Regions from separate parts of the Homo sapiens genome. Here region 1 is linked to region 2. The links come from fine-mapping of genetic effects on gene expression. A gene starts in region 2. The other region holds a variant in brackets. All regions are shown on one strand. Distances are between the middles of the regions. Region 1 overlaps DAP3 (death associated protein 3). Region 2 holds the start of DAP3 (death associated protein 3).

What was found. PIP is the estimated chance that this variant, and not a neighbour inherited with it, causes the effect. A credible set is the group of variants that fine-mapping cannot tell apart.
Region 1: its variant is the best candidate, but not a certain one, in a credible set for the expression of DAP3 in whole blood (TOPMed, PIP 0.59).

What each region holds. Positions count from the first base shown.
Region 1 is chr1:155,731,481-155,735,480 of GRCh38, reverse strand. It overlaps DAP3 (death associated protein 3), which reads right to left. Exons shown (of 13, transcript NM_004632.4): 11 at 3,448-3,537. Among named protein-coding and RNA genes, the nearest start is that of DAP3, 44 kb to the right of the region's middle. The variant T/C (reference allele first, on the strand shown) is at 2,114.
Region 2 is chr1:155,686,817-155,690,816 of GRCh38, reverse strand. It overlaps DAP3 (death associated protein 3), which reads right to left and starts at 1,726. Exons shown (of 13, transcript NM_004632.4): 1 at 1,643-1,726. It overlaps YY1AP1 (YY1 associated protein 1), which reads left to right and starts at 2,043. Exons shown (of 11, transcript NM_139119.3): 1 at 2,043-2,158; 2 at 2,616-2,746. It also overlaps the pseudogene LOC124904430. RefSeq lists enhancers at 1,578-1,627, 2,003-2,637 and a silencer at 2,118-2,167.

The DNA of each region.
Region 1 (4,000 bases), 45 kb before region 2:
CTCAGCCTCACGAGTAGCTGGCATTACATGCCTGCACCACCATGCCCAGCTAATTTTTTGTATTTTTAGTAGAGACAGGATTTCATCATGTTGGCCAGGCTGGTCTTGAACTCCTGACCTCAGGTGATCCGCCCGCCCTGGCCTCCCAAAGTGCAGGGATTATAGGCGTGAGCCACTGCGCCCGGCCCAAGGAACTTATTTTTTTCTTTCTTTTTCACTGTCTCCCAGGCTGGAGTGCATTGGCACATCTTAGCTCACTGCAACCTCTGCCTCCCAGGGTCAAGCGATTCTCCCACCTCAGCCTTCGGAGTATCTGGGACTATAGGCGCCCCACCACGCCCGGCTAATTTTTTTTTCTTTTTTTTTTTTTTTCATTTTTTGGTAGAGACGGGGTTTCACCATGTTGGCCAGGCCGGTCTAGATCTCCTGACCTCGTGATCTGCCCGCCTCGGCCTCCCAAAGTGCTGGGATTATAGGCATGAGCCACCACGCCCAGCCTGAGAGCTATCAAATCTGAAACTACTTTTCATATATTCTAGTATTGAGCTAATAAGTAAATATACTATGGCTACTGGCAGCAGATTTCTCATTATTTTAGATTAGAGTTACAGATATGGAAAGGGTATAATGACTGCTGTGATGGTAGCATGGAATTGGCTACTAGTAGGAACTCATAGTTTTTTAATATGATTAGAGAAACAAACGCAGATGTGTGTGGATGTGTATAAACATGTATATGCATATGGTTCACACATATACATACATACATGTATGTATGTACATCTATTTATGAACTTTGCTGTGAGGGCCTAGGAGAAAGGACACCTCAGTAGCAGTGAGTATACCTAGGACTCAGGCCTTGGTTGCTAAATACCAGTCTCCTCTAAAATAAGCCAATGCTCTTTGGAGAAATGGAGATTCCAGGGCTGGGCATGGGAAGTATAAGAGGGGTCTGGAACATATTCTCATGACAGAAAATAAAGAAGTGGTCAAAGAATGATAGGAGCTGGATATGGTGGCTCACGCCAGTAATCCCAGCACTTTAGGAGGCCGAGGTGGGAGGATTGCCTGAGGCTAGCAGTTCAAGACCACCCTAGGCAACAACATAGTTAAGACCATGCCTCTAAAAAAAAAAAGGAAAGAAAAGAAAAAGACAACATTCAGTGCTGGGTGTGGTGGCATGTGCTCAAGGCTACAGTGAGCTATGATGGTGCTACTGCACTACAGCCTGGGTGACAGAGTGAGACCCTATCTCCAAAAAAATAATGATGGGGACATTTTAAAAGGATATAGAAGTTAGCTTGAAGGAGCTTTTTTTCCTGTTGAGATAGGGCCGCACTCTATTGCCCAGGCTGGAGTACACTGGCAAAATCAGGGCCCACTACAGCCTTGACCTCCCGGGCTCAAGCGATCCTCCCACCTCAGTCTCCAGAGTAGCTGTGACTACAGGTGAATGCCACCATGCCCAGCTAGTTTTAAAATTTTTTTTTGTAGAGATGGGGTCTCACTTTGTTGCCCAGGCTGGTCTCAAACTCCTGAGCTCAAGGGATCCTTCTGCCTTGGCCTCCCAAAGTGCTGTGATTACAGCTGTGAGCTACCAAGCCTGGCCATGAAGGAATTGTTTTTTTGTTTTTTGTTTTTCTTGAGACGGAGTCTTGCTTTGTGGCTCAGGCTGGAGTGTAATGGCACAATCTTGGTTCACTGCAACCTCCGCCTCCTGGGTTCAACCGATTCTTCTGCCTCAGCCTCCAGAGTAACTGGGACTATAGGCACGCACCACCACACCTGGCTAATTTTTACATTTTTAGTAGAGACAGGATTTCACCATATTGGCCAGGCTGGTCTTGAACTCCTGACCTCGTGATCCACCCGCCTTGGCCTCCCAAAGTGCTGGGATTACAGACGTGAGCCATCACACCCGGCCAATGAAGGAATTTTTAATGGCCAAATCTAAGATGATTTGAGCACCAAAATAAAAAGTGACAGTAATGATTTAGATTCTATTAAATAAAAATCCACAAGACCATACCAGCTGCGGAGGCTCCATGCCAGGTATAACTAAAGTAATGGATACTAAAACCAGTAGGTGGAAGTTTGAGAAGTAACAGGATCT[T/C]TACCTAGTCTCAAAGTATATCTCTACAACATACATATTAATTCCAAAGCAAAATAATAACTTTACTGAAGAGAAACCAGATGGACAACACCTCAGCTAACAGTTCCAAAATCATTACCAGTAATGGGAGAAATGTGCCTCCTGATAGGATGCACTCACTCAGACATGTCATCACTTCTAACATCACTTCTATTCAGGAGGAAACCTCAGACAACCCCAAAAAGTGACCTACAAAATAGCTGGCATGCACATGCCAAAAACATAAAGATTTCAAATGACAAAGACTGACAGACTGTCACAGATTAAAGGAGACCAAAGAGACATGACAACTTTTTCTTTTTTTTGAGACGGAGTCTCGCTCTGTCACCCACGCTGTAGTGCAGTGGCGCAATCTCGGCTCACTGCAACCTCCACCTCCCGGGTTCAAGCGATTCTCCTACCTCGGCCTCCTGAGTAGCTGGGATTACAGCCACGCGCCACGACGCCTGGCTAATTTTTTGTATTTTTAGTAGAGACGGGGTTTCACCATGTTAGCCAGGATGGTCTCGATCTCCTGACCTCATGATCCGCCTGCCTCGGCCTCCCAAAGTGCTGGGATTACAGGCATGAGCCACCGCACCCAGCCAGAGACATGACAACTTAATGTAACACATTATCTGGGATTTATTTTTCTATAAAAGATACTGGGATAACTGGCTACATCAGAATAAATCCCACCAATTAGGTAAAAGTATGATATCAATGTCAATTTTCTGACTTTGATAATTATGCTCAGGGTATATTAGAGTATCTTTGTTCTTAGGAATGAGACATTATTTGGAGACAAAGAAGCATCAAGGCCAGGCGCCGTGGCTCACGCCTATAATCCTAGCACTTTGGGAGGCTGAGGTAGGCGGATCACTTGAGGTCAGGAGCTTGAAACCAGCCTGGCCAACATGGTGAAACCTCGTCTCTACTAAAAATACAAAAAATTAGCTGGGCGTGGTAGTGGACGCCTGTAATCCCAGCTACTTAGGAGGCCGAGACAGGAGAATCACTTGAACCCGGAAGGCGGAGGTTGCAGTGAGCCGAAATTGCGCCATTGCACTCAAGCCTGGTTGACAGAGCAAGACTCCGTCTCAAAAAAAAAAAAAAGAAAAGAAACTCTGGAGAAAGACGGAGACGGATAAAGCAATGATGATCAAGTTAATATTTTAGGAATCCAGGGGAAGGGCATACAGGAATATGATTTTTCTCTAAGTCTGAAATTATGTCAAAATACATAGATTAATAAAAATATTTTTCTTTAAACAGGATAACAATCTAAGTAGAAACAAATTTTCCTTTGACTTGACCTTTCCCAGCAACTCCTGGGGCAGATAGGCTTTCCGGGGCTTAAAGAGAGACCCAGTCTGGCTCAAAGCCGACACAATGGCGCCTCCATGCTGAAAGAAAAGAGAAAAGGCTGAACTGGAAAAAGTTAAAAAGGATGGAAAACTGCATTAATCATCTGTAGATTTTTTTTTTCTTTCTTGGGCATACAGTGTTACAAAAGTGTGGTCTAGCACAGTTAAATGGCAACTAAATTGGTTATTCCAGATTTGGCTCTGACAATAAACTGCTACCTGATTTTAAATTTACCATGACATATTTGTGGGTCTCAAACTCTTTTCCAAAGACGGTAAGGAGATACAAAAACACTTTAAATGTCTGCAAGCAAAATAAAATTAGGCCAATATTTAAATAAAATGGTTTTGAATAAACTTACTTTGGAAAGATTATAAACCACATATATATAGATTTTAATTCAGACTTTATTTCTAACTTGGTACAGATACAGGAATTAAATAAGACATAATAACTTACTGTCCATAAAATTAGAGACTGTAAAGTATTAGCAATGAAATA
Region 2 (4,000 bases):
AGTGAGCCAGGACTGCACTACTGCCTTCCAGCCTTGGCGACATAGATCCTATCTCAAAGCAAACAAACAAAAAAAAGTGTAAATTTACAGAAGAGTTGCAAAGGTAGTACAAAGTGCTTTCTTACAATTTTCATTAGAGTTTCCTTAATGTTACATACATATGACCATGGTACAATTTTCAAAATTAAGAAATTAAAGCTGGTACAATACTATTTAAAAATTGCAGACTTTATTTGCATTTCCTCAGCTTTTCTGCTAATGTCTTCTTTCTTTTTTTGAGACAGGGTCTCGCTCTGTCACCTAGGCTGCAGTGTGATGGCGTGATCTCGGCTAACTTTGCAACCTCTTCCTCAATCCTCCTGCTTCAGCCTCCCAAGTAGCTCAGACTACAAGCGTGTGCCACACCTGTCTAATTTTTGTGTCTTTTTGTAGAGATGGGGTTTCACCGTGTTGCCTAAGCTGGTCTCGAACTCCTAGGCTCAAGCAATGCGCCCTCCTCCGCCTCCCAAAGTGCTGAGATTACAGGTGTGAGCCACTGCGCCCAGCCTAATGTCTTCTTTCTGTTACAGGATCCAGTAGAAGATTCCACATCTGGAGATCTTTTCCTTTCTTTATATCTATCACCGACATTACCTACTCTTTAAAAATTTTGTAAAAGGCATAAATTTGAAAAATATATCCTCATTAATCTAAATCAAGTCATTGATACAACTATTTAACAAGACGCCCGGCCTGCTTTGTTTTATTAACGACTTGGAGGGACAGAACACTACCCATTACACCCACAAACGTTATCGACATCAACAGAACTGTAAATGACAACACGGCAATACTCTGCACCTTCCCTATGCCTAGGAGCTAATTCCACTTTACATATATTATTATTTCGTGTGTGTGTGTGTGTGTGTGACGGAGTCTCGCTTTGTCGCCAGGCTGGAGTGCAGTGGCGCGATCTCGGCTCACTGCAACTTCCGCCGCCCGGGTTCAAGCAATTCTCCTGCCTCAGCCTCCCGAGTAGCTGGGGCTACAGGCGCCCGCCACCACGGCCGGCTAATATTTGTATTTTTAGTAGAGACGGGGTTTCACCATGTTGGCCAGGATTGTCTCGATCTCTTCACCTTGTCATCCACCTGCCTCGGCCTCCCAAAGTGCTGGGATTACAGGCGTGAGCCACCGCGCCCAGCCCTATCTTATTATTTCACACACCAACCCTGGAGGCATGTTTGGAGTTGCCTAATTTTTATGTACACTTTTTGATAAGGAACTAACAAAAATAACTTGCTGAAGACAAGGGAAACTGAGTCCAGAACTGAATGAGAAGCACATGGTTTCTTCATCCTCCATCACCAGGCTGTCTAACGAGGCTGAAGTACCATCCATGAGTAAGTGCGTCAAGGGCAAACAAACATCATCGCATATGGACAGTGGTGTGAAATTCGAGAAATCCGAGGAGGGTTAACAACAACAAAAAGCACACCACCACGCCGAACTTCCTCGGGTCCCAGGTTGGCAACTCAACGCCCGGGAGGAATCCCCCCCGGAGGCGCGCCGGTCTACCGGCCTCACTCCCTACCTCCTGGAGGTCCGGAGTCCCGCTCCTTTCCCTCAGCGGTACAATACCCGTGTCGGTCCATTCCCTCACCGTGAGTCGAGGACTAGTTCTCCAGACTAGGCGACCGACACACGCTGCCTGGGGCCGGCTCCAAAGCGCCCGTCCTGAGACTGCAAAAAAGGGTCGGGTCATCCGGCAGGAAACGACTCAACGCGCAGCCGCCGCGGCCTCCAACCACCGGCCGGCAGAGGGGCGCTAGGCCGCCCTCGATCCCCTCGCCGCGGTCCCATGGAGGAGGAGGCGAGCCGCAGCGCCGCGGCGACGAACCCAGGGAGGTAGGTTGTCATGGGACTCGGCCGGCCACCCTGGCAATTCCAGTCAAACGGCAAGCCAGACTCGCTTTGCCGGTCCCTTCCTCTCCTGCCCCTGCAGCCGCCAGGAATGGAACAGTCCCGCGGTGGGGACTGTGGGAGGCGCACGCGCGAGGAGTGTAGGGTGGGGGTGCTGGCGGCGGCTGCTTTGGCGGCGGTTGGTGGCCGTGCGGGCGGGGAGGGAGGGGGAGGAGAGAAGAGGAGGTGGAGAAGGCTTGGGCTCGCGCCGCTGAAGGTACGCGTGAGGGCCTGCGCTGGAGCCGGCTTGACAGGGTCTGAGGGGGAGTGGAGAACTGGGCGAGGAGGTTCCCGTGGGTGAGCGCGTACGGGATGGCTGGCTCGCAGGACGGCCGAAGGTGGTGGTTGGTGGGAGCAGCCAGCGACGAGCCCGTAGACACTCGTACGCGTGCGGGCTGACGTGCGCGCTACATGGCCGGAGTCGGGCGAAGCGGGGGACCGTGGGGAAGAACGCGAGGAGGGAGGAGTGGGAGGTTGGGGGTGTCGCTAGGCGCCCTTAGCTCCCTCCCTCTGGAGGAGCTGCCGCGGCCACTCTGCTGCCGCCGCTGCCGCCGCCATTTTGGGTTCGCTTTGCGAGGGGAAACGATCCCAGTGTCGGTTGCGGGATCCGCCTCCTCTCAGTTTGCCCCTTTAGCCCTCCACCTTTCCCTTCTCCTCTCTCGCATTTCCGCCAGTCGGCTTACCCGCTGGCCGCCTCCTGACAAGCGGGAGGGATCCGCGGTGGACCCAGGGAAGCGGAGGAGCCTGGCGGCCACCCCCTCTTCCTCACTTCCCTGTACTCTCATCGCTCTCGGCCTCCGACACGGTGAGTAGAACGATTTGGGCCGGCATTCGGGCCTAAGCACTCTCTCAGCGATTGAATCCTGGGCTTTCTGGGAGCCACTGTCATCTCCCGGACCTGGACCTCTGGGAGAGCAGTGGTGAAGATGGGGGAGGGGAGAGCAGGGAGGGGGATCCTGAGCCTACCGGGAAGTCCCTCCAGGCGGGGTGAAGGGGTGTCCCTGACAGGCAGACTCCCGGAGGGGGCTGGGAAGTAAGCGAGTGGAGGCGGAGTCGGCTGTGCCCCTGACAGGTTAGTTTGTGTTTGTAGGCATGATCGGAGCCTCCCCCATAGTCCAGTTTGTGTGTGTTTAATTAAGGGATAAGAGTGGTCGAGGACACGATCTTGAGAGGGGATTTTACCTGTGTGACAAGGTCTGTGGTGTCCCTGCCGCGTTGAACGGTATGTGGGAACGACAGGATGATCTCAGTGTTGTACGTTTAATAAATGTCACTGGTTAGTTTGTACATGGAAAGAGATGTTTTTGGTCTAGCAGACAGATGGTCTGTTGGTGTGTAGCGGCTGTGTTGGTGTGTGTATGTGAGGATGGCAAGTGTTTCCGTAAGAGTTTGCCTTTATTTGTGTAAGTGTAATGGAGTTCCCCTTATAAGTTAGCTTATTTCTTGAATAAATGTTGGGAGGTTCCTTGCAGGTTGATATGTGTGTGTATTTTAGGGATTGGGAGCCCCTAGTTACTTGTTGGGAAAGAGCGGCAATGGTAGTGTTCTGTACAGCATGTGTCTGTGAGGTCAGGGAGGGGAGAAACTTGGCATAGCCAGTTGTGGTCTTAAGAATAGTTTGTGCCTTTGGTTAGAGTGAGTTGTGTAAATGTGAAGGGCCAAAATATCTTTAACAGAATCATTGCTACAAAGCTGTAAAGAATGGGTGGCCTTATTTGTTGTCGCGGGTTTATAGTAATAGTTTACAATACAATAAGAAAGCTCTTTCAGTTTCTTTGTGATACTGAATCTCTGTGAAAATGGTAGGATGCTTTCTTCCATTTTACAAAATAGGAAATTTAGGCATAAGGAGAGAACTTCTCCAAGGCCGCATGTTAAATTGGTGACAAAGTTGGAACTGTAACTCCCATATTTTCACTACTACTGCAGCAGTATATTCAGCATACCATGGTGCCTCAGGAAGTCTTTGTCGGCAAATCTGAGTATGCTGGAAAGATAGGAGCACATAAGACTGGTTGGCTTGTATTTGGGGGAGACCGATTGTGTCAGATATGTATGT